Regions from separate parts of the Homo sapiens genome. Here all the other regions are linked to region 2. Evidence: fine-mapped expression QTL. A gene starts in region 2. Each other region holds a variant in brackets. All regions are shown on one strand. Distances are from middle to middle. Region 1 overlaps VAPB (VAMP associated protein B and C). Region 2 holds the start of VAPB (VAMP associated protein B and C). Region 3 overlaps VAPB (VAMP associated protein B and C). Region 4 overlaps VAPB (VAMP associated protein B and C).

Region 1 (5,711 bases), 44 kb after region 2:
TTAGCGCCTTTCTGAGCCCTTATCTTGTTTGTTTTTTTTTTTGTTTTTTCTTTTTTTTTAAGAGACTGGGTCTTGCTCTGTCACCCAGGCTGGAGTTCAGTGGTGCTATCATAGCTCTCTGCAGCCTCCATCTCCCAGGCCTAAGCAGTCCTTCCACCTCAATCTCAGCCTCTCAAGTAGCTGGGACTATAGGCTACCATGCCCAGCTAATTTTTTTGTGGTAGAGATGGGGTCTTGCTTTGTCGCCCAGGTTGGTCTTGAACTCAAGTGATCCTCCCGCCTTGGCCTCCCAAAGTGCTGGTGTTACAGTTGTGAGCCACCATGCCTGGCAGCCCTTATCTTTTTATCTTGAAAAAGGAGACGTGCTGCTTGGATGGATTGTTGTGAGTAGTAAATGGGAGCACTAAGGAGAATTTGCCTTCTATGGTACCTATTACACAGGAGGCATGAGTAAAGATTCTTTTCCTTTCTTTCCTTCTTGGGCCATCATGAAAGTATTGGGGATGAAGAAGCTGAGGGATGATGGAGAAATGGAAAGGAAGGACCTGTTTTCCCTTGGGGCATTCTTAGAACCCAGGCAGAGCTCTGGACACAGTGCTCTTGGCTGTACTTTTTTACTCCCACTGCCTCTAGGAAGGTGATGAATGGGAAGGGGCAGGCAGAGCTTCCTGGGGCTGTTTTTTGGGGGTGTGTTCTGTTCTCTGGACCCATTGGTTTTTGTATTTCATCTAAATAGCTTCTCTAAAAATTAGCATTTTCCTTGGATTGCTGTCATGTGAGCATCAGGGATCTTTACAAATAAACCTTGTTCCTCCTCAGAGCTCTCCAGAGTGGTAGACTTGGGAGTGGTGCAATAGCTGTTCACAGCTGGGAGAACAGAGTCTCAAGGGTAAGACGGTGTTTACTACTAGATCTGTGCCCTGCCAAAAATCTAAGAGTAGTTCAGGTCAAAGTTCTCTTCTTTCCTAAACTGAAAAATACCAGAGCATGATTTTGTCACAGCCAAGGAAGACCTGAAATTCTTAAAACTGAATTCACTTTAATTTTAGAAAGGGAACATTAATCTAACAGTGAATCCCAGCTCCAAAGAAGGTTGACAGTCCCTGTCCAGGAAGGTTCACAGAGCATGTAAAGACATTGGCTCTTTACTTTAAAATGTGTGTTTTCGTTATTGCAATCTTAGGGGCAGGAAAAAAACACATTGGGAATTTGGCTTTCAGAAAAAGCATTGACCTGCCAGTCTGGTCATTTGTCCCTGAGGTTAAGTGTCAAGCCCAGGTCGGTAAATGTTCCAGGTCTGTCTGTAGGAAAGGTCAGCTCTTGCCAGCTCAGTGATGCCAGAGAAAGAGTTATGTTGATAAAAGGTTTACTCTCTGACAGTTATTGAATTTTGTCCTGAAGAAGTCTCCCAGCAAGGCTTCCTTGTAGCTCAGGGCCTTCAGGTGGGTCTTGTGGGCAGTGAAGCTGTCTGGGTGACTAGGGACACCAGTGCATTTAAGTCCAATGCATGGTTAGGTCTCAGTGGACTTTCTCTGTTCCCATGGTGAAGAGTGCTACTGCATCCCTAAGATGGATGGGGGAGGTTGGTATTTCTATCCTGTTTTGTGAATGGTTCCATTAGCTTTGTCGTGGGGCCTGGGTGCCAGATATAAATCTAGCTCATATTGGAGTGACTAGTGTGGTGAAAGGGGTGCTAGACTGCACTTGTAGTCAAGTCTTGGCTCTTTGTCCCAGTGTTGCCACTTCTTAACATTGTGACTTTGAGGGAGCCACTTCACTTTGTGGAATCCCAGATTCTTCATTTGTAGACCACGGCTATCCTGCTTTCTATCTGCTGCTGGCTGTGGTTGATTGTGTGGCTCTAGAGGAAGCACCTGGGAAGTCCTAAGTTGGGGTTTCAAGGCAAGAGAATGCTGATGAGGGCCCAGCAGAAAGGTGGTAGAAGCCCTGCTGGTGAGAAGCATAAGACTTGTACTGTCAGAGGACAAGGCACCAGTCCTTTGTGGTGGCTGTGAACTTAGGTCCCCACACCAACTGCCTGGGTTTGAGTCTGCACTCCACCAAGGTGTAACCTTGGGCAAATTCACCTCTCTGTGTTCATTCTTTTCATGTGAAAAGTAGACACCAGAATAGCCCCTCTCCCCCAACAATAGTACCTACTTTTTAAGGATTAAATGAGATGATGGTAAACCTAAGGGACAGAGCCCAGTTTCTGGCACATGGAGATACTCAGTCCATGCCCACTGTTGTGGTCAAGGCCACAGTAGGCTTTCCCTGCATGTGAAGTTGTCTCAGGGAACTTAACTAGATGTGTGGGTTAGCCAAAGCCTTGTAGCAAAGTAACATATTTTAAAGCAGCCATCATTTGATAGGAGTAGGCCCAGCTGTACTCTAGGAAGTAGGCTGAAGGGAGCCACTTGGGGTAGGAAGGCACCTCCCTCCATGCAGTGGGTGTGACTCATCCACAGGATCCTCTGTGTGAGATTTCTCTAGGTTCTTAGGGAAAAAAAAGGGGGAGTATAAGCTGATACCGTTTTCCCTGCTGTGTGAGTGTCCTGATTGTAAAAATTTTCTAGCTTTAT[G/A]TTGGCAAAATTGTATTTCAAGGATTACCTTGATTAGCTATATGAGAAATGGGTTGGAGAGAAGCTACAACAGTTCCTTAAATGTTCTTAAACATCTTAGATTATTCTATTTAATTCCTGAAGAGATCATTTGGATATGTTTTCTTGAGCAAAACAGGCAGATGGTGTTGCTACCCAGTTTCCCAATTCTGTAAGGCCTGTAGCAGACATTTACGGTAGGCTTGCAGTAGTGAAAGATCCATGGACTAGGAATCAGAAGACTGGGTCCTCGGCCTTATTCCCAGCTCTGTCATGCGTGATTTTGTGGCTCTTAGGTTGGTGACCTGCAAAATGGAGATGTTGGTCATCCTTGCTTACTTCACCAGGGGCGTCCATCCTAAGACATAAGAGAATGCCGGTAAATTGCTTTACAACCAAAGTACAAGTATTAGCATAATAAATGGCACTGACAACCAAGCTCTGACCCTCCTAATGAAATATTTTCTTTCTCAGTGATGTTACAGCCTTTCGATTATGATCCCAATGAGAAAAGTAAACACAAGTTTATGGTTCAGTCTATGTTTGCTCCAACTGACACTTCAGATATGGAAGCAGTAGTAAGTACTGAATGCTTCTTATTTTTTTCAGTAACAATAATTTAAAAAACCAATTAGATATGGAATTGTGGGTGCATGCATTTCAAAATATGTCAAAATTATTTAAAAGGGAATAGTTTTTTTTCAAGGAGGTTTGTACTTTATCTACCTTTATGGTTTTTCTAAAACTTTGAGGAATAATTTTAACATTTTTTGTGACTTTCTAGAAGGCTGTTCTTTTCTGACTTTCCTGAGCTCAGTGTGCTTCAGCAGCTCCTTGCACTGGTGGATGGTGTCTTGCATGGTTAGGGATTGCCTTCTTTCGCCTCTCCTTTCTGCCCCGACAGAAAAGGATACTTTTCATTGTCCCGCCTTTTTCTTACTTGTCTTCTCATCCCCCACAAACTCAAGAGCCATGTGAGAGTGTCAGTGCTGAATGTCCTCACCCATTTAGACATACATGTTTGTGGCTTTGTTCTAGTAAATATGCTTATTTATTTTCCCCCCTGCTTAAATCTATGTTTAACTTTTCTCTAATTTTGATAAAATTAAGATGACTTCATTTTTATAAAAGAAATAAGTGATGTTAGTGATGGTTTTGGAAAAAAAAAAAAGAGTATAATGGACATTCCCTCCAAAACGAGCTTTTTATACATTTGAATAAGTCCATTGGCATTCTGGGGCTGGGAGTTGAATTGAAATCTACAATACAACCCACAGCCCCAGCAGGGACAGATGCGCTTGTCCTTACAGTTCAGGAAAGCAGGACAGGGTTGCCTCATACCACTTGCATTGCTCTCCAGTTTTGGCCCGCCCAAAGGGGAGCCCCGAGTCATCCACGGCAGGTCTGCCCACCTGAGTCCGCTGTTCATCACACCATACTGCAGTTCTCCTCTGTCTGAGTTTCATACCAAGGGCAACTCAGGCCAAGACCACCCCATGCCCTATGTCACCACATAGCCTTTTGTTTAAGTTCTGGAGAAGCATCTCCGCTGATGTTTCACTTGTAGGCAGAAAATGAAGGAGGAGGCCAGATATTTTTGACTTTTAGAGAGATCAGTGATAATAGGCTGTCTTCTTTTCATAAGAACAATTCTTATGAAAACTTTCTCTGATTTTCTGCAACATGATGTGTTACTTCATGTTAATTTGTGTGATCAAAGAAACATGGCAGATAGAAAATAATGGAAGATCCAAGGGTGTGTTCTGTTTGGCTTCTGCTGCATGGCATAGTGAAAAGAGCATGGGCTTGGGTGTTTTCGAGCTGAGTTCTTCCTTTTACTGACGTTGTGGCTGGGAGCAGGTTTTATTAACTCTGTTGAGGTTTTGATCATTTGTAAAATAGGGATAAAAATGCAGCTCACACAGTGGTGAGTATGAAGTGTGCCTGTGTAAGTGCCTGGTGGGTCCAGTGTCTGACACTTGCTTATCAGAGTGTGTAATAGGCCAGTCACTGCATATCTAGTAAAGGGTCATTTTAGTTCCTTGTATGATGATATAAGTTTAAATTTTTTTTATATAAAATGTACATTGTGGGAAATTTTGGAAATACACAAATGAAAAAAATTTAAAGTGACCCATAGTTCTTTTCTACTAGGCCTAACCATCATTAATGAGAAATGAGAGCTTTGTGTTTTTCTTCCTTTTTTTTTTTTTTTTTTTTTTTGGAGACATGATTTTACTGTGTCACCTAGGCTGGAATGCAGTGGAGTGATCTCAGCTCGCTGCAGCCTCCACCTCCTGGGCTCAAGTGATCCTCCCACCTCAGCCTCCCAAGTAGCTGGGACCACAGGAGCGCACCACCATGCCTGGCTAATTTTTTTGTAGAGACAGGTTTTCTCCATGTTGCCCAAGCTGGTCTCAAACTCCTGGACTCAAGCGATCTGCCCACCTCAGCCTCCCAAAGTGGTAGGATTACAGGCATGAGCCACTGCCCCAGCCTGCTTTTTCTTTATTTTAAAATGTTTTTCTTTTTATTGTGATATACAGAAAGTTGAAAAAATAGCATGGTGACCACTCATATAACTTTTACCTAGATTTACATTTGTTAACATGTTGTGACATTTGCTTCCTTTCTGTCACAAACTTTCTTATTTGCTTGAGATGCAAATTTATGACACTTCACCCCTAAATGCTTCAGAGCAAGGACAGTCTCTTATATAGTCATGATACTATTAATCATAGCTGAAAAAAGTAACTTCAATTCAGTATTATTATGTGATAAATTCATATTCATTATTTCCTAGTTGTTCCAAAAGTGACCTTTAGTAGAGGACACCCAAACCTTTTTGTTTTTCAAACTTTGAACTTTTTTTTTTTTTTTTTTTTTTTTTGAGACAAAGTCTTGCTTTGTCACCAAGGCTGAAGTGCAGTGGTGCAGTCATGGCTTGACCTCCACCTCAGCTGTTCGAGTAACTAAAACTACAGGCATGCCACCATGCCGGCTATTTTTTTATTTTTTTATAGAGTTGGGGTCTCACTATGTTGCCCAGGCTGGTCTTGAACTTCTGGGCTCAAGTGATCCTCCTGCCTCTGCCTCTCGAAGTGCTGGGAT
Region 2 (5,711 bases):
ACTGTAGAACATGAGAAGAGGGAGAAAAGACCAACAACCTATGAAGGAACGATGTTAAGATTGTCACTGGACTCCTGAGGAGCAATGAGGGGGAACAGGCAAACAGTGGATGGCAATCAAGTGTGCTGAGAGAGGACAGCTGTCATTCAAGCAAGCAAGCCAAAATATCTGTCAAGAACAAGGGCAAGGCCAGGCGCAGTGGCTCATGCCTGTAATCCTAGCACTTTGGCGGCTGAAGCAGGAGGATCACTTGAGCCCAGGAGTTTGAAACCAGCCTGGGCAACATAGTGAGATTTTACAGAAAATAAAAAAATTAGCTGGGCGTGGTGGTGCATGCTTTTAGTCCCAGCTACACCGGAGTCTGAGGTGGGAGGATTGTTTCAGCCTGGGAGATACAGGTTGCAGTGAGCCACGATCATGCCACTGCACTCCAGCATGGGCAACAGAGCAAGACCTCATCTCCAAATAAATAAATAAATAAAATAAAAACAACAAAAGGCAAAAATGAATCCATTTGCAGATGAGCAGAAACTGAGAGGATTTGCACCAACGAAGCTACAAAAAAATAAAATTTAAAGGATTTACCTCAGGCAAAAGGAGAGTGATCCTGTTGGTGAAAGCTGAGATGCAAGAAGAAAAGGTGGATAAAAATGGTAATTGTGTGGCTGAATCTAAACTAATGTTGACTGAATAAAACAATTTAGTAATGTCTCTTGGGGTTACAGTGGCAAAGGTTAAACTTAACATACACTACATTAAGGTGTATAATTTAGAGGATGGGTGATTAAAGTACTCCAAAGTCTTTATATTTTAAGGAAACAGGGTAAAGACATTTTTACAAATATTTAAAGATATTGGACTTTCACAAGGTAAGTATGCATGCCCAAAAGTTTGAAGTAACCACTAAAACTTAGAAATAGAGTATACAGGTGAAGAAAATCAGAATGAGAATAAAAATAAACCCTAAAGAAGAAAGGAAAGGGGAAAAAAACCAGGCAGGACAAATAGAAATAACAAAATACAATGGTAGAAATAATTCCAGATATATCAGTAAATATAATAAATGTAAATGGACTAAATGCTCCAGTTAAAATACAAAGACTATTCTTTTAAAAAACCTTTTTATCATGAAAAATTTCAAGTATACAGCAAAGTGGGAGAAACAGTACAAGAAAACCATATACCTGCGATGTAGAGTCAGCCATTGCTAGCAATTTGCCACATTTGTCTCACCTATATGGGTATGTATAGGAGACTATTAAGAACACCTATTTAACTTCCATAGTAAACATAATATAATGAAATACAATTTAAACGGTAATCATGATGTAGAGTATCCACTTTTGAGGTCAAGCAGATCTGGATTCTCCAGCAATTTTTAATTATTTAACTTACGTGTGTGGTTATTTATTCAAAAGATGTCTCTTCACTAGGCTATAGTAAAAGGATTGGAATCAGGTTCGCTTTTCTGATCATTGTATTTCTAAATATTTGTTGCATAAACAAATAGAATTTACTAGTAAAGAATTCAGCACAGTGCCAGTTGCATAGTAAACATTTAACGTAGAGTAGCTTGTATTTATTGTAGTTGCTGTTGTTATTGGAAGCATTCAGTAGAGTGATACAAAATAAATAAGCAATAATTGGTAGTTTATTATATTTATAATTATTATTTACAAGACGTCACAGTGCCTAGCCCATATCACTCACCCATAAACATTATACTTATACTAAGTACTTTCACTATTATTCAAAGTCTCTAACAGTGCCTGGCACTACATAAGCAAGAGAAAAGTGGAAGTTTATTCTAATTGTTATTATTGAATAAAGCACTTAACACGAAGCTGGCCCCCAGCGGGCCCTTAATAGTTTCCGCGGTGGCTGTCGTAGCTGGACTACAGACCCCGCCTCCTGAGCGGCCCGAAGCCCCGCCCCTTACTGCCCCGCAGTCCCGCCCCCGTGGCTTGTGCCGCGCCTGCGCACTGTCCCGGAAGGGGCTCTACGCGCGCAGCTTTAGTCCCCGCCCCTGGAGCCGGCGGCGCAGGGCGCAGCTTCCCGCCGCCAGAGCGGGCCAGCCTGCTGCGTGCGTGCGTGTGTACGACTCTGCGTGCGTGCGTGCGTGCGTGCGTGCCGTCAGCTCGCCGGGCACCGCGGCCTCGCCCTCGCCCTCCGCCCCTGCGCCTGCACCGCGTAGACCGACCCCCCCCCAGCGCGCCCACCCGGTAGAGGACCCCCGCCCGTGCCCCGACCGGTCCCCGCCTTTTTGTAAAACTTAAAGCGGGCGCAGCATTAACGCTTCCCGCCCCGGTGACCTCTCAGGGGTCTCCCCGCCAAAGGTGCTCCGCCGCTAAGGAACATGGCGAAGGTGGAGCAGGTCCTGAGCCTCGAGCCGCAGCACGAGCTCAAATTCCGAGGTAAGCCCCAGAGGCCGCCACCTTCCTGCCCGCGGCCTCCGCCCCAGTGCTGGAAGGACGGAGCCCGGCGCGGCGGGTGACGTCGGCCCTCGTCCCCACCCCGACGGCGCTGTCGCGGGGGGCGGCGAGGCCGGGCCGGGCCTTGGCGCTCGCCGCGCTCCCCAGAACTGCCCGGAGTGGCCGGGACCCGAGAGGGCTGGTGCGGGAGCCGGGGCCTGCGCCTCCTCCCCGACCCCCAGCCTCCTGGGACTTGCCTTCGAGGCACTTGTCACTTTGTAACTTACCAGTTTGTGATCCTCTCTAGTGTGAGCCTCCGCCGCTGCCTTTGCCTAGAAGTTTCTTCCCCTGCTCCGTGACAGTGTTGACCTCAGGGCTTAGTTGAGGTGTCAGCTGCTCAGAGAGGCCTGCTGTGACCACCCAGCCACCGTGCACACCTGCTGTCATTCCCTATTCCGTCACTGTTTCGTGGTCAGCACGGCACTTTTCATACCCAAAATCACTGTTTCAATACTAGAAGGGAAACTGCATGAGGACAGGCTCTTGTCAGTTCGCTGCTGTGTACCCAGCACACATTATACGCCTAGTAAATAAATACCTGTTGAACCAACAGATGAACATGTTGAACCAACAAATGAACCTCCTCAGGACTTCTGATGGGATTGGGCCCATTTTCCTTTCACTGCGTCCCTCATGCTGTCTCCTGGTTGCGGTGCAAGGAGGCTGCCACGGTGCTGGGATCCTTTTTCTCCGCAGAGCTGTCTGGAGCAACACCTGCGGCGATGGGAAGCCATGACCCTGGTTTCTCCCAGATACTATTACCTCTGTAATTTGTGCCTTTATGTTTTCTATGTTGTTACTTTTGTTTTTTTTTTTTTTTTCCTACCTTCACCAGGGCCACGAGGTAAAAGTTCTTGTCTGACATGCTCATTCTTTCTTTTTGCGTGTATCCAGTGATGTGGGAGGCTCTGGGGAGGTGATGGATGCACAAGACAGATAAGGCCTCTGCTCTCACAGAGCTTACCTTCCGACGAGGACAGACAAACCAACACACAAGATCATTGCAGATAGTGCTAAGTGCTGTGTAGGAAATGGAACAGTCTGACTCCATGGAAGCGTACTTTAGATTGGAAGGCCGGGTCTCCACTATATCGCTAGCACCGGACTCACAGTAGATGCTCAGTTGGTATTTATGAATGAATGAATGGCCAGAGGCTCTCCAGTTTATATGTCCTATTGGGAAGTAGTGTAGGGTAACTTACCCAAAGTTACCCAGTTGGCAAATGGTACATTTGAACCCAGACTTCAGAGTTCACGCTCTTAACCGTTTTGCTGTCTGATCGCTGGGAAATACTCCAGAACGGTGGCTGTCACTTTGCCTTCCAAGTTAACAATGTGAAATAACTCTGAATTTACAGAGAACCAAAGGCTTTCCAATTAAAATGAAAAAACCGAAAAACCCCACCAAACCTACCGTGGATTGTAATTCCAGGATAGTACTTGAGCTTTCATGATGTTCTCATGGCCTTCTGGGGATGCCAGATTGGGAAAGAAGTCCAGGTAGCTAAAGTGAAAATAGTGAGCCTTAGTTTCCACTTGAGTTGTCTGAAGTTCTTTCTCTATCTGGGAGGCCTGGCTTGGCTTCTCCTGATAATTGGTGGGTTCATTCGGTTAGTCCACAAACATTTACTGAGTACCTGATCTGTGTGTCAGATACCCAGAGAAGCCAAGTTATATCAGCTGTACTCTCCTATTTTCCCTCAACCTCCTCCCAGTACTTTAGGGAAGGGGGCAGATGAGAATAACAGCCAGGACAGGACAATGATGTAGGGTAGTCCAGAGTGCTCCAGGAGCATTGAGGAGGTCAACTCCTGAAAGAGGTGTCATTTGAGCTCAGTTATAAAGGTCGAGTAGAAGAAGGCTCAAAGAAGGAAAGGGTGGGGAACATTTCAGACAGAGGAAATTGCATGCACAGAGGCACAAACACTGAGATGACTGGGCTCCTTTGGGATGCCACTAGTAGTTTTTTTTTTTTTGAGATAGAGTTCTCACTCTGTCACCCAGGCTGGAGTGCAGAGGCGCCATCTCACTGCAGCCTCTGCCTCCCAGGTTCAAGTGATTCTCCTGCCTCAGCCTCTTGAGTAGCTGGGATTACATACAGGCATGTGCCACTACGCCTGGCTAAATTTTGTATTTTTAGTAGAGACGGTGTTTCACTATGTTGGCCAGGCTGGTCTCAAACTCCGGACCTCAAGTGATCCGCCCTCCTTGGCCTCTCAAAGTGCTGGGATTACAGGCGTGAGCCCGGCCACCACTAGTGGTTCTGAATGACAGCAACAAAGAACATTTGTTGTGGTTGCCTGGCAAGATGGGAGACAAGGCTGGTGAGTAGACAAGAGTCAGATCTCAGTCCCTTTATGCATAGATGCAGCCAGTGTCCAAGTTAAAATTGTGTTGCTTCTCCTTGAGCAGTCCTTCCTTGCATTAACTTTCTGAAAACCCCCAAATCCCAGTACAAACTCTGTTGTCTAATATGTTATGGAAAGAGGCACTCATTTGAGAAAATTTAAGATTTTGTTCAATTGTTTTACTGAAAGATGTGTGACCTTAGGCCACTTCACTCCTCAAAGCCTGGGGTGGTTATTCGGTCAATGGGGATGATGCTCGTGTCCACGTTGCCTCTTGTAGAACGTGTTTAGAAGGAATGACATGGCTGTTAGTGGCTTTGTAAGTGCATAGTACTATACAGAGATTAGACAACCACTTAACTACTTAAGTGGTTTCATCACTTCTGTACCTGAAAGGTGTGGCAGAGAATAGCGATCATTCTGGCCCTGGATTGGCCAAAGTAATTATGCCAAAGTCACTGGATATTTTTGCTAGGGAAGTGGTCCAAGAGAAGTGGTACCAAATTGTTGAAGGCCTCTGGCTCATAACTTTAGAAGAGACATCTGTGTGTGTTCTTAAATGACGTCATGAGGTGTGTTGTTTGTTTGTTTTAAACTGAATGCTAAGACAGTACAATTAATAGAGACTGAATACCCTGACTTAGAGATAATTCATTTCAGGATGAGAAATGGCACATTTAACTGGTTTCTTCCAGGTTACTCAGGGTGACGACTCTGATTTCTGGTCGTTCACCTAGATGAACCTCTGAGCTAACTTTACTTGAGAAGGTAATAACTAAAATGCCCATTCAAAGGAAAAATTATCTTTTAAATGCAGCCTAAGTTGATCGTATGGGATTGTATATTGTCAGACTCTTTAATCTTGGGAATTTTGTGTGGTATGTTAAATTTA
Region 3 (5,711 bases), 52 kb after region 2:
TTGCCCTTTATCATGGTGGTTGATGGACGTGTGGGAAGCTTTCAAGTTCTCTTGTTTTACAAAGTGCCCTGTCAGCCTCCCTACCCCTTTTACCCTATCTACCTCTTCAATCAAAGGCTGCTTTTAGATGAGGATTTCTCAGCCTCAACACTGTTGATATTTGGGGCAAATCCTTGGTGGTGGTGGAGGTTGCCCTGTGTACTGTAGGGTGTTTTATTAATAGCAGCATCCCTGGCTTCTGCCCTCTTGATACTGGTAGTACTTCCCAGTTGTGACAACTAAAAATGTCTCCAGATATTGCCACATGTGTCCTGGAGGGCAATATCAACCCCCATTGAGAGTGATCCCATTCCGGTGTTGCCTGTGGGGAGAAGGAAGGAGCCCCATCCTCTAGGCTGTCCACTGTGAGCGCTTTACCTTTCATGATCCTCACTTGTGACCAGTTGAAGAAAGGAGACTGTATCTGAAATGCTAATTTGGACTTCCCTTCAACCTAGTCGAAAACATTTTAATTTTTATAAAAACACCAAAACTGTGAAAGCATGCAGCATGTGAAACTATCCTAGCCATTAATAGCTGGAGTTGGGAAACAGAAGTACCCTGAAATGTTGTGTTAACAGTATCTATGTTGGTCTGCGCGAGTGCTGTTGATTTGTGTCAAAACTACCTGAGATTTTATTTCTGCTGAATCATTTACCACTATCATTACCCTGTTTCTTTAAGTGGATAGTGGTCATTTTTTCCCTCTTCCCAGTGTACATCCTGTCACAGGAAGGTCAGTTTGGAAGCTGTGAAAGCAGTATTCTGGCCTCAGCTCTGTGATAGGTTGACTTGGTAGCCTGGGGCCTTGCTTCACAGGGCCTACTCTTCTCATCTGGAAAATGATGGGTAGAGCTAGATTCCAGGCCAATGATCGTCAGTTACTCTTTCCCTGACAAGCTGCGTGCTTCCATGCCCTCCCTCCACTGACTGGCTCTCATCCCCTGTAAATCTCAAGAGGGGATCATAGCTGAATCTTGGCAGGGGAAATAAGGGGAGTATGTAACTTCCCAAGATTGAAACATTGCAGACACTGAGTTTGTTTCACCTTCATCCCAGCTTCCAAATGCTAAGTTGGTAAAGTAATTCGCCCTCTGTCTAATGCTCTCCCAAGCCTCCTAACCCCACTAAGGCAATCCTAGGGATGTTCACATCTTTGTGGTGACAGTAATTTGTGGCTAATAATTCCTGAGCTTGCACAATTACAGTATGCTGATTTTTCCGTGGCAGGAATTTGATAGTGCAATATACACAGCCCTTTTTCTCTTTCTTTGAAGTATTAGTCTCAGCCGAACTTCATTATTTGCCCTTATCCATAATTTCTAGGGCCCTGTTGCTTTAGATTATTAAGATATCAGATAAAGTAATCCATTTTTAAAATAAATGTGACATTTTACAGTGTGGATGAAATGCTACCACGTTTGGTGTTTGCTGAGAACTACTTTACTTTGCATAAAAAAGTCCATTATTACATGGTCGGTGACACTTAGGCTTTCATTTGTTTTTGAACAGCATGATGTAGAAATAAATAAAATTATATCCACAACTGCATCAAAGACAGAAACACCAATAGTGTCTAAGTCTCTGAGTTCTTCTTTGGATGACACCGAAGTTAAGAAGGTTATGGAAGAATGTAAGAGGCTGCAAGGTGAAGTTCAGAGGCTACGGGAGGAGAACAAGCAGTTCAAGGTAATAGTTTATTTTCTGGTAATCTACAGAAAACAAGGGCGTTTTCACTAGCTTCTTGGGTGGGGAAGTTGATGAGCCAGTGAATATATAGATTTCTTTTTGCTTTTGGTATTTGGCTATTTTTTTCTCCCCAGGGAGAAATTTCCATGGCTTTCATGAGAGTCTCAAAAGGGTCCTTGGATCTGCCTAAATTAAGAACCACTGTCCCTTGATCAGAAATTTCTCAACTGTTGAAGCTCTTGTCCCCTTAAAAAAAAAAACAAAAACAAAAAACTTGGCCGGGTGCGGTGGCTCACGCCTGTAATCCCAGCACTTTGGGAGGCCAAGGCGGGCCGATCACAAGGTCAAGCGTTCAAGACCAGCCTGGCCAACAAAGTGAAACCCCGTCTCTAATAAAAAATACAAAAAATTAGTTGGGTGTGGTGGCAGGTGCCTGTAATTCCAGCCACTCGGGAGGCTGAGGCAGGAGAATCGCTTGAACCCAGGAGGCGGAGGTTGCAGTGAGCTGAGATCGTGCCACTGCCCTCCAGCCTGGGTGACAGAGCTAGACTTCGTCTCAAAAACAAAATAAACAAAACCCCAAACAACTCAAACTCTCCATTATTGTAAATTGAAAATAAATGTTGAGACCAAAATAGTTTTTATTTTGAATATGCATTTTTAAACCACTTGGGTGAGAATCTTTTTTCAGAGAGTGAATACTGACCTATACTCTGTTTTAATGCAAGTATAGTTCTGATTTTAGAAGACTCTAAATAGGTCTGGGCAGTTGTGGCTCATCAAACTATTGATGTGGTGATGAGCTTGGAGGTGGGGTGCCTCACAGTGGGTAGGAGGTGGAGATTATGGAAGGAAAATCTGAGCTTCTAGCTTCTGGATGAGGCAGTTGGCATTGGCAATGGAAGGTTGTATTGTACTGAGTGATGAAGTGGGGAGGCAGGGGGTGCTTCTTTTGGCTTGTGGTGGTGTGGAAGTTGCTCCCATCCAATATGAAACAGCTCTGAATCTGTGCTGGTCACAGCATCTCTTAGGCCTCTGTTTGCTAAACACCTCTAAGGCCCCTTCCAGCTTTAAAAGTATGAGTTTTCTTCTCTTTTACTCTGACAGTGAGGTAGATATAGGAGAACTGACAGCATTTGGGAAATGGCATCATCTTCTTCCTTTGCAGTGATTTTGATTTGCCTCAGTCAGTAATTTCTTTAGTGTGTAGTAAATTGTGAAGCTGACACTACTTTTTGGCTAAAAATCTAAGCTATGCCTGAAGCTTCTCGAGTGTATTTCTCTTCTGAAACAGAGTTCTGTGCTATTTAAAGTGGTAAATAGGTAGAAATAGCTTCTATATAACCTAATAAAATAAATGGTTTAGTTTGC[C/T]GGGTTTTTTTTTAAGCCAGTCGGACACCACCAGTTGTTTATCACTGTGCAGTGATACGGGCCATGCCCCATGAGCAGAATATCCTTAAAATATGATCAGACCAATCTCAACATTAGAAGATTCTTTATCCTGCCAAACACTGCCTTCTTGTTTTGTGTTGGTTTATTCTGTCATCTGGCCAACAAATTTACTGAGGGTCTAATATGTGCCCGGCACTGTGGATTCAAACACGAACAGCCCCTGCCCTTGAGGAGCTCTCTGTTGTTGGGATAGCAGGGAGAGACATAGACAGAAGTGATTACAAGCCAGTGTGATCAATGTCCCACAGAGATAGCAACAAATTGCAGGGAGAGTCAGCTCCATGGGACTCATCTGCCTGTGGTCCCCAGGACCTACTAGGTACTCGGGCGGATGGGAGCGAATGGAAGGAAACGAAGAAAAGAAAGTACAGCTGGTGTGTGGGGTTTAAGGATGAGGAGATGAGGTAATTAGCAAGAGATCTATCAGCAAAGATGAGTCTGTGCCAGAATAGAATGGCTTGATGCATGTCCCTCTTCAGGGATGTGGGCTTGGCTTTGAGAGCATGGAAATGGCATCATAGATCTACATAGTAACTTGCAGATTCTTAGGAAAGTGCAAGGCAGTTGTGGCAGTGGAGGTGAAGGAAGAAAAAATTTTTCATTTCTTACATTTCCATGTAGTTTGGGGACAAGGGGAGGGTGGGGAATATGGTCAAATATCTTTATATGTATGAAAAAGAATGTTGCTTCTTCAATGAGAAATCTATGCATTAAGTAGAAAATATTTGAGATGAGTGTATGAAGGCCAGTCACATTTTAATATTCCAAATATCATTTGATCCAGCAGTCTGGATGTAACTCATTAAGTACCAGCTATCTACAGAGCTCTGCATTTGAAAGCTTCCAGATGTCCCACTTTTAGGTTTTTTTTTTTTTTTTTTTTTAATATGGAGTCTCACTCTGTCACCCCAGGCTAATTTTTGTAATTTTAGTAGAGACGAGGTTTTACCATGTTGACCAAGGGGTAGTCTTGAACTCCTGAGCTCAGGTGATCCACCCGCCTCAGCCTCCCAAAGTACAGGGATTACAAGCATGAGCCACCGTGCCCAGTTGACTTTGTAGATTCTTTTATTTATATATTTATGTCTTGGGAAATGCCTGTGATTTTAAAAATCGATGATTTGATCAAGGAAGGCTATTCATTAGAGGCAGGAAGGACAGAGAGGTTGGGGTTGAAGAGAAGCATCCGGAAGACATGGCCATAGAGGTGGGTGGGGCCGAGGGTGCAAAGGGCCCAGTTGACCCTTTTAAGTGCTTTTTTCTGTAAATCACGGGAAACCAAGGAGCACCCTGTTTAGATGTCTGTTGTAACTAGCAGCAGCAAGTGGAATGGATGAAAGAAAAGAGGGGACTGTTTTCTCAGTGGCTTCAGGCTAGCCCTTTCCCCTCTGTAGCCTGCAGTTTCTCCGTTTGCAAAATGCGGTTGGACCATATCATGTCATCCAACACTGGGCATAAACAGCCCATCCCGTTAAGCTGTACAGTTGACTCCCCTTTCTGGTGCCTTGGCTTGTCTTTGAAATGTGCGTTTGCTCCCGTAGGAAGAAGATGGACTGCGGATGAGGAAGACAGTGCAGAGCAACAGCCCCATTTCAGCATTAGCCCCAACTGGGAAGGAAGAAGGCCTTAGCACCCGGCTCTTGGCTCTGGTGGTTTTGTTCTTTATCGTTGGTGTAATTATTGGGAAGATTGCCTTGTAGAGGTAGCATGCACAGGATGGTAAATTGGATTGGTGGATCCACCATATCATGGGATTTAAATTTATCATAACCATGTGTAAAAAGAAATTAATGTATGATGACATCTCACAGGTCTTGCCTTTAAATTACCCCTCCCTGCACACACATACACAGATACACACACACAAATATAATGTAACGATCTTTTAGAAAGTTAAAAATGTATAGTAACTGATTGAGGGGGAAAAGAATGATCTTTATTAATGACAAGGGAAACCATGAGTAATGCCACAATGGCATATTGTAAATGTCATTTTAAACATTGGTAGGCCTTGGTACATGATGCTGGATTACCTCTCTTAAAATGACACCCTTCCTCGCCTGTTGGTGCTGGCCCTTGGGGAGCTGGAGCCCAGCATGCTGGGGAGTGCGGTCAGCTCCACACAGTAGTCCCCACGTGGCCCACTCCCGGCCCAGGCTGCTTTCCGTGTCTTCAGTTCTGTCCAAGCCATCAGCTCCTTGGGACTGATGAACAGAGTCAGAAGCCCAAAGGAATTGCACTGTGGCAGCATCAGACGTACTCGTCATAAGTGAGAGGCGTGTGTTGACTGATTGACCCAGCGCTTTGGAAATAAATGGCAGTGCTTTGTTCACTTAAAGGGACCAAGCTAAATTTGTATTGGTTCATGTAGTGAAGTCAAACTGTTATTCAGAGATGTTTAATGCATATTTAACTTATTTAATGTATTTCATCTCATGTTTTCTTATTGTCACAAGAGTACAGTTAATGCTGCGTGCTGCTGAACTCTGTTGGGTGAACTGGTATTGCTGCTGGAGGGCTGTGGGCTCCTC
Region 4 (5,711 bases), 24 kb after region 2:
TTGGCTCACTGCAACCTCTGCCTCCCGGGTTCAAGTGATCCTCCTGCCTCAGCCTCCCCAGTAGCTGGGACTACAGGCATGGGCCACCACACCTGGCTACTTTTTGTATTTTCAGTAGAGACAGGGTTTCACCATGTTGGCCAAGCTGGTCTCGAATTCCTGACCTCAGCTGATCCACCCGCCTTGGCCTCCTGATTACAGGCGTGAGCCACCGCACCCGGCCAGACATCTTTTCGTATGTTTATTTGCTTTCTGTACGTTTTTGGTGAGGTGGCTGTTCAGATCTTTTGCCCATTTTAAAATTAGGTTGTTCATTTTATTTTATTTTATTTTTATTATTTTTTGAGACGGAGTCTCTTTCGCTCTGTCACCCAGACTGGAGTGCAGTGGCACGATCTCAGCACATTGGAAGCTCCGCCTCCCTGGTTCAGGCCATTCCCCTGCCTCAGCCTCCAGAGTAGCTGGGACTACAGGTGCCCACCACCACGCCCGGCTAATTTTTTTGTATTTTTAGTAGAGACGGGGTTTCACCGTGTTAGCCAGGATGGTCTCGATCTCCTGACGTTGTGATCCACCCGCCACAGCCTCCCAAAGTGCTGGGATTACAGGCATGAGCCACTGTGCCCAGCCTTCATTTTCATATTATTGAGTTTTAAGAGTTCTTTGTATAGTTTGGTTGACAGTATTTTATTCAGGTATGTTTTTAGCAAATATTTTCTCCTGGCTTGTGGCTTGTCTTCTGCAGAACAGATGTTTTTATTTTTAATGAAGTCTAGCTAATCAGTTATTTTTTTCATGGATTTTGTTTTGGTGTTGTAAGTAGTCATCTCCAAATCCAAGGCCATCTAGATTTTATTCTGTCATCCTGTAGGAGTTTTATAGTTTGGGGTCTAAATATACTTTAGCCTTTATTTTTCTGGTAGAATTGCTAAGTTAAAAGTAAAATTATGGCTGGGCGTGGAGGCTCACACCTCTAATCCCAGCACTTTGGGATGCCAAGGTGGGTGGATCATTTGAGGTCAGGAGTTTGAGACCACCCTAGCCAATGTAGTAAAACCCTGTCTCTATTAAAAATACAAAAATTAGCCAGGTGTGGCATATGCCTGTGGTCCTAGCTACTTGGGAGGTTGGGGCATGAGAATCGCTTGAACCTGGGAGGTGGAGGTTGCAGTGAGCCAAGATCGTGCCACTGCACTCCAGCCTGGGTGACAGAGTGAGACTCTGTCTCAAAAAAAAAAAAAAGGTAAAATTATATATTTACTCCTTAAAAACTTCTATCTTGCCATTTAGTAGATAGGATGTTATGCTATGCTTGAGGTAATACAGATAGGTAAGGCCTAGATTGAGTTTTCAGTTCACTGGAAATTTTCATTATTACTTTTTATAATTTGATGGGACATGAACTTTTAAATTATTCTTTTGTAAAGATAGTATTTACATTTCCTGAAGGGAAGCGTTTTAATTTTTCTTCCATGGCTCTTGAATGAATAATTACAGAAAAGCATTTAAATCATATGTAGATCAGGAGACTGTTTAAAGATTTAATGGAATACTTTTCCCATAAAATGCTCTTAGGTTTCCTGACAAGTTTATTCAGCCATTTTTTTATGACATTTTCAACACCTGGAACCTGACCTCTTCATGTTGTGCTGGATTGTGACGGTCTTTGACCTTCAAACCAGAACTTTATACATCTTAAGGCCCAATTTTTGTAATTAAGAGTAAAAAGCAACTATTTCTTCTTTCACTTTTAATGGTATGCAAGTTTTTGCTGGTATTGTATTTGCCTTCTTTTTTTTTTTTTTTTAATTTATTTTTTATTGATAATTCTTGGGTGTTTCTCACAGAGGGGGATTTGGCAGGGTCATAGGACAATAGTGGAGGGAAGGTCAGCAGATAAACAAGTGAACAAAGGTCTCTGGTTTTCCTAGGCAGAGGACCCTGCGGCCTTCCGCAGTGTTTGTGTCCCTGGGTACTTGAGATTAGGGACTGGTGATGACTCTTAACGAGCATGCTGCCTTCAAGCATCTGTTTAACAAAGCACATCTTGCACCGCCCTTAATCCATTTAACCCTGAGTGGACACAGCACATGTTTCAGAGAGCACAGGGTTGGGGGTAAGGTCACCGATCAACAGGATCCCAAGGCAGAAGTTTTCTTAGTACAGAACAAAATGAAAAGTCTCCCATGTCTACTTCTTTCTACACAGACATGGCAACCATCCGATTTCTCAATCTTTTCCCCACCTTTCCCGCCTTTCTATTCCACAAAGCCGCCATTGTCATCCTGGCCCGTTCTCAATGAGCTGTTGGGCACACCTCCCAGACGGGGTGGTGGCCAGGCAGAGGGGCTCCTCACTTCCCAGTAGGGGCGGCCGGGCAGAGGCGCCCGTCACCTCCCGGGTGGGGCCGCTGGCCGGGCGGGGGGCTGACCTCCCCACCTCCCTCCCGGACGGGGCAGCTGGCCGGGCGGGGGGCTGACCCCGCCACCTCCCTCCCAGATAGGGCGGCTGGCCTGGCAGAGGGGCTCCTCACTTCCCAGTAGGGGCGGCCGGGCAGAGGCGCCCCTCACCTCCCGGATGGGGCGGCTGGCCGGGTGGGGGGCTGACCTCCCCACCTCCCTCCCGGACGGGGCAGCTGGCCGGGCGGGGGGCTGACCCCGCCACCTCCCTCCCAGATAGGGCGGCTGGCCTGGCAGAGGGGCTCCTCACTTCCCAGTAGGGGCGGCCAGGCAGAGGCGCCCCTCACCTCCCGGACGGGGCGGCTGGCCGGGCGGGAGGCTGACGCCCCGACCTCCCTCCCGGACGGGGCGGCTGGCCGGGCGGGGGGCTGACCCCCCACCTCCCTCCCTGACGGGGCGGCTGGCCGGGCGGGGGGCTGACCCCCCAACCTCCCTCCTGGACGGGGCGGCTGGCGGGGCGTGGGGCTGACCCCCCCACCTCCCTCCCGGATGGGGCTGCTGGCCTGGCGGGGGGCTGACCCCCCCCACCTCCCTCCCGGACGGGGCGGCCGCCGGGCGGAGACGCCCCCCACCTCCCAGACGGGGTGGCCGCCGGGCGGAGAGGCTCCCCACCCCTCAGACGGGGCAGCCGCCGGGCGGAGGGTCTCCCCACTCCTCAGACGGGGCGGTTGCCGGGCAGAGGGTCTCCTCACCTCTCAGAC[G/A]GGGCGGTGGGGCAGAGATGCTCCTCACCTCCCAGACGGGGTCGTGGCCGGGCAGAGGCGCTCCTCACATCCCAGACGGGGCGGCGGGGCAGAGGCGCTCCCCACATCTCAGACGATGGGCGGCCGGGCAGAGACGCTCCTCACTTCCTAGATGTGATGGCGGCCGGAAAGAGGCGCTCCTCACCTCCTAGATGGGATGGCGGCCGGTCGGAGACGCTCCTCACCTCCCAGACTGGGCAGCCAGGCAGAGGGGCTCCCCACATCCCAGACGATGGGTGGCCAGGCAGAGACGCTCCCCACTTCCCAGACGGGGTGGCGGCCGGGCAGAGGCTGCAATCTCAGCACTCTGGGAGGCCAAGGCAGGCGGCTGGGAGGTGGAGGTTGTAGCGAGCCGAGATCACGCCACTGCACTCCAGCCTGGGCACCACCGAGCACTGAGTGAACGAGACTCCGCCTGCAATCCCGGCACGTCGGGAGGCCGAGGCCGGCGGATCACTTGCGGTTAGGGGCTGGAGACCGGCCTGGCCAACACAGCGAAACCCCGTCTCCACCAAAACCAGTCAGGCGTGGCGGCGCGAGCCTGCAATCGCAGGCACTCTGTATTTGCCTTGTAAAACAGATCAATTCTAGCCCCTCTTACTGTCTTACTCTTACCTCTTATTGCCTTAAACACAATTTAAAATGACAAAAATCCAAGCACAGTGGGTCCTGGGGGAAGGTAGAGGAAATAAATTATACTGTGTTTAGCTTTATCTAAATACCTTTTACAGCATGTCAAGGAATTCATTTTCAGTTCATTAGTGCTGTTTCATAAGCATCTTCAGCAAACTCACACAAATGTTCACAGATGAGTATATGCATAATCTAGGACATAAAGGGCATTGTTTACATTATTAAAAAGAGTAACAGTTTCAAAGAGTATTGCCAGTTTCTCCCAAATTCATGTTTTTTCACTTTTTTAACCTCCCATTTCACATTTTAGATGCTTAGTTCCTGGTTTTGTTACAGACATTATCTGAAATAAGGAATAGAAGATTAAAAATGATTTGAAGTGTATGCTGTGGTTCTAGAGACACATCATTTTTTTTTATCTCTAAAAAGGAAAAATTCTAAGTTTAGAAGGAGATTTCATTTGTAAAATTGACTGTACTTTATAAGCAGTGTTTAAATTCATTGGTGGTAAATATGCATGTTGGTATAGTAAAATCCCATTTTTTACATAATGCTTTAATGGAAATGGCAGTTTTATGAAATGAAAGTGACTAGTAAAAGTCTGAATGATGCTCATAAGCTTTTACATCATTTTTATTGAAGGTTTTGTGTATGCTAATCCATTAATACAGGGGAAAAGGAGAACACTAACATGGTTTATTTTCTATAATTACTCAAATAGAATATAATTTATTTTCAATAAAATTCTTGGAGCAAATTGCCCAGAGTAGGGAGAGGAAGGTTGGCCTGTTCTTACAAATATCTTGATTTTTACCCACGGGACTTTGTTATTTTACCAGTGATGTTGTTTCATTGCATATATTTTCAGTATAGTTCCCTCCAGATTTTTACAAATAAAAGCCTGTGAAAGGCCAAGAAATCCCAAGCATGTAAAGACCCAGGATTGTGGAGGGAGAAATCTGGGATGTTTATTTTATCCTGTTTATTATTACAAATATTGCTTGTCTTTTAATAGTTTAGACTTCCTTTTATGTGGTTTATATAAGTTGAAGCACCATTAAGATTGCTGTGTAATAGCAATTAACTGTGATGTAATAGATTAACCTGGGGAAATTTTCAAAAACAGTTAAGTGTTTACATTTAAATTTGGCTTATTTTTGTAGAGTACCTTGAAGAAGAGGTCAGTGTAAGGAATAAACAAATACTTAAATTTGGGATCCTCACACCACAACTTCATAAGGGGGAGAGGGTGAACTGAGGTATCCCGTAGGTGGTTGAGGTGTGTGTGCTTGTGAGTTTTCTGTATTTCTTTGCAGTTGGGTTCAGCGAGGAGCAGTTTTCTGTGTTCACCAGTGTTGATAGCAGACAAAATCACACAGAAACAAATACGAAAATTGTTTTATGTCCAGAATGTCCCTCTAATATGCACATGAGTAACGTTGGATCAAATTTATGTTTTCAAAATAAGTCTCATAGCAGAACTAGCTGTCGTTTGATTTTGGGATTGAGTCCCATTTCCTTCCTTCCTTATCACCATTTTGATTTCTTAATTTGTATTAAGGTAAGCCCATATCAGATTGATTTTTTTTTTTTCCATGCCCGGAGCACCTCAAGAGTAGAGACACCAGCCTGAGGATCTTAATTTTGCTGGAGATAATCCACACACAGGTAGTTTTCTTCTTGGTGAATATGTAGATTGAGATCTTTATTCTATGCCAGCCACAGTGCTGGGGCTACAGAGATGGATAAGGTATAATCCTTGTCTCAGGAGCTTAGAGTCTCATTGAAAAGTTTTTCAAAACACACATTTGAATGATTTTGTTGAGTCAACATTACGTATTTGTTTGTGAACACATAAGCGCACACCCTTTCCCCACCT

What was found. PIP is the estimated chance that this variant, and not a neighbour inherited with it, causes the effect. A credible set is the group of variants that fine-mapping cannot tell apart.
Region 1: its variant is the best candidate, but not a certain one, in a credible set for the expression of VAPB in lymphoblastoid cells (GTEx, PIP 0.62).
Region 3: its variant is the best candidate, but not a certain one, in a credible set for the expression of VAPB in sun-exposed skin (GTEx, PIP 0.61).
Region 4: its variant is the best candidate, but not a certain one, in a credible set for the expression of VAPB in nasal epithelium (TOPMed, PIP 0.71).

What each region holds. Positions count from the first base shown.
Region 1 is chr20:58,431,528-58,437,238 of GRCh38, forward strand. It overlaps VAPB (VAMP associated protein B and C), which reads left to right. Exons shown (of 6, transcript NM_004738.5): 3 at 3,075-3,178. Among named protein-coding and RNA genes, the nearest start is that of VAPB, 45 kb to the left of the region's middle. The variant G/A (reference allele first, on the strand shown) is at 2,583.
Region 2 is chr20:58,387,104-58,392,814 of GRCh38, forward strand. VAPB (VAMP associated protein B and C) reads left to right here and starts at 2,126. Exons shown (of 6, transcript NM_004738.5): 1 at 2,126-2,414. The coding sequence starts at 2,357. RefSeq lists silencers at 1,835-2,274, 2,535-2,654.
Region 3 is chr20:58,439,356-58,445,066 of GRCh38, forward strand. VAPB (VAMP associated protein B and C) reads left to right here. Exons shown (of 6, transcript NM_004738.5): 5 at 1,552-1,728; 6 at 4,722-5,711. The coding sequence ends at 4,880. Among named protein-coding and RNA genes, the nearest start is that of VAPB, 53 kb to the left of the region's middle. The variant C/T (reference allele first, on the strand shown) is at 3,100.
Region 4 is chr20:58,411,349-58,417,059 of GRCh38, forward strand. The region is part of intron 1 of VAPB (VAMP associated protein B and C); the gene reads left to right. Among named protein-coding and RNA genes, the nearest start is that of VAPB, 25 kb to the left of the region's middle. RefSeq lists enhancers at 1,749-2,540, 2,541-3,330. The variant G/A (reference allele first, on the strand shown) is at 3,161.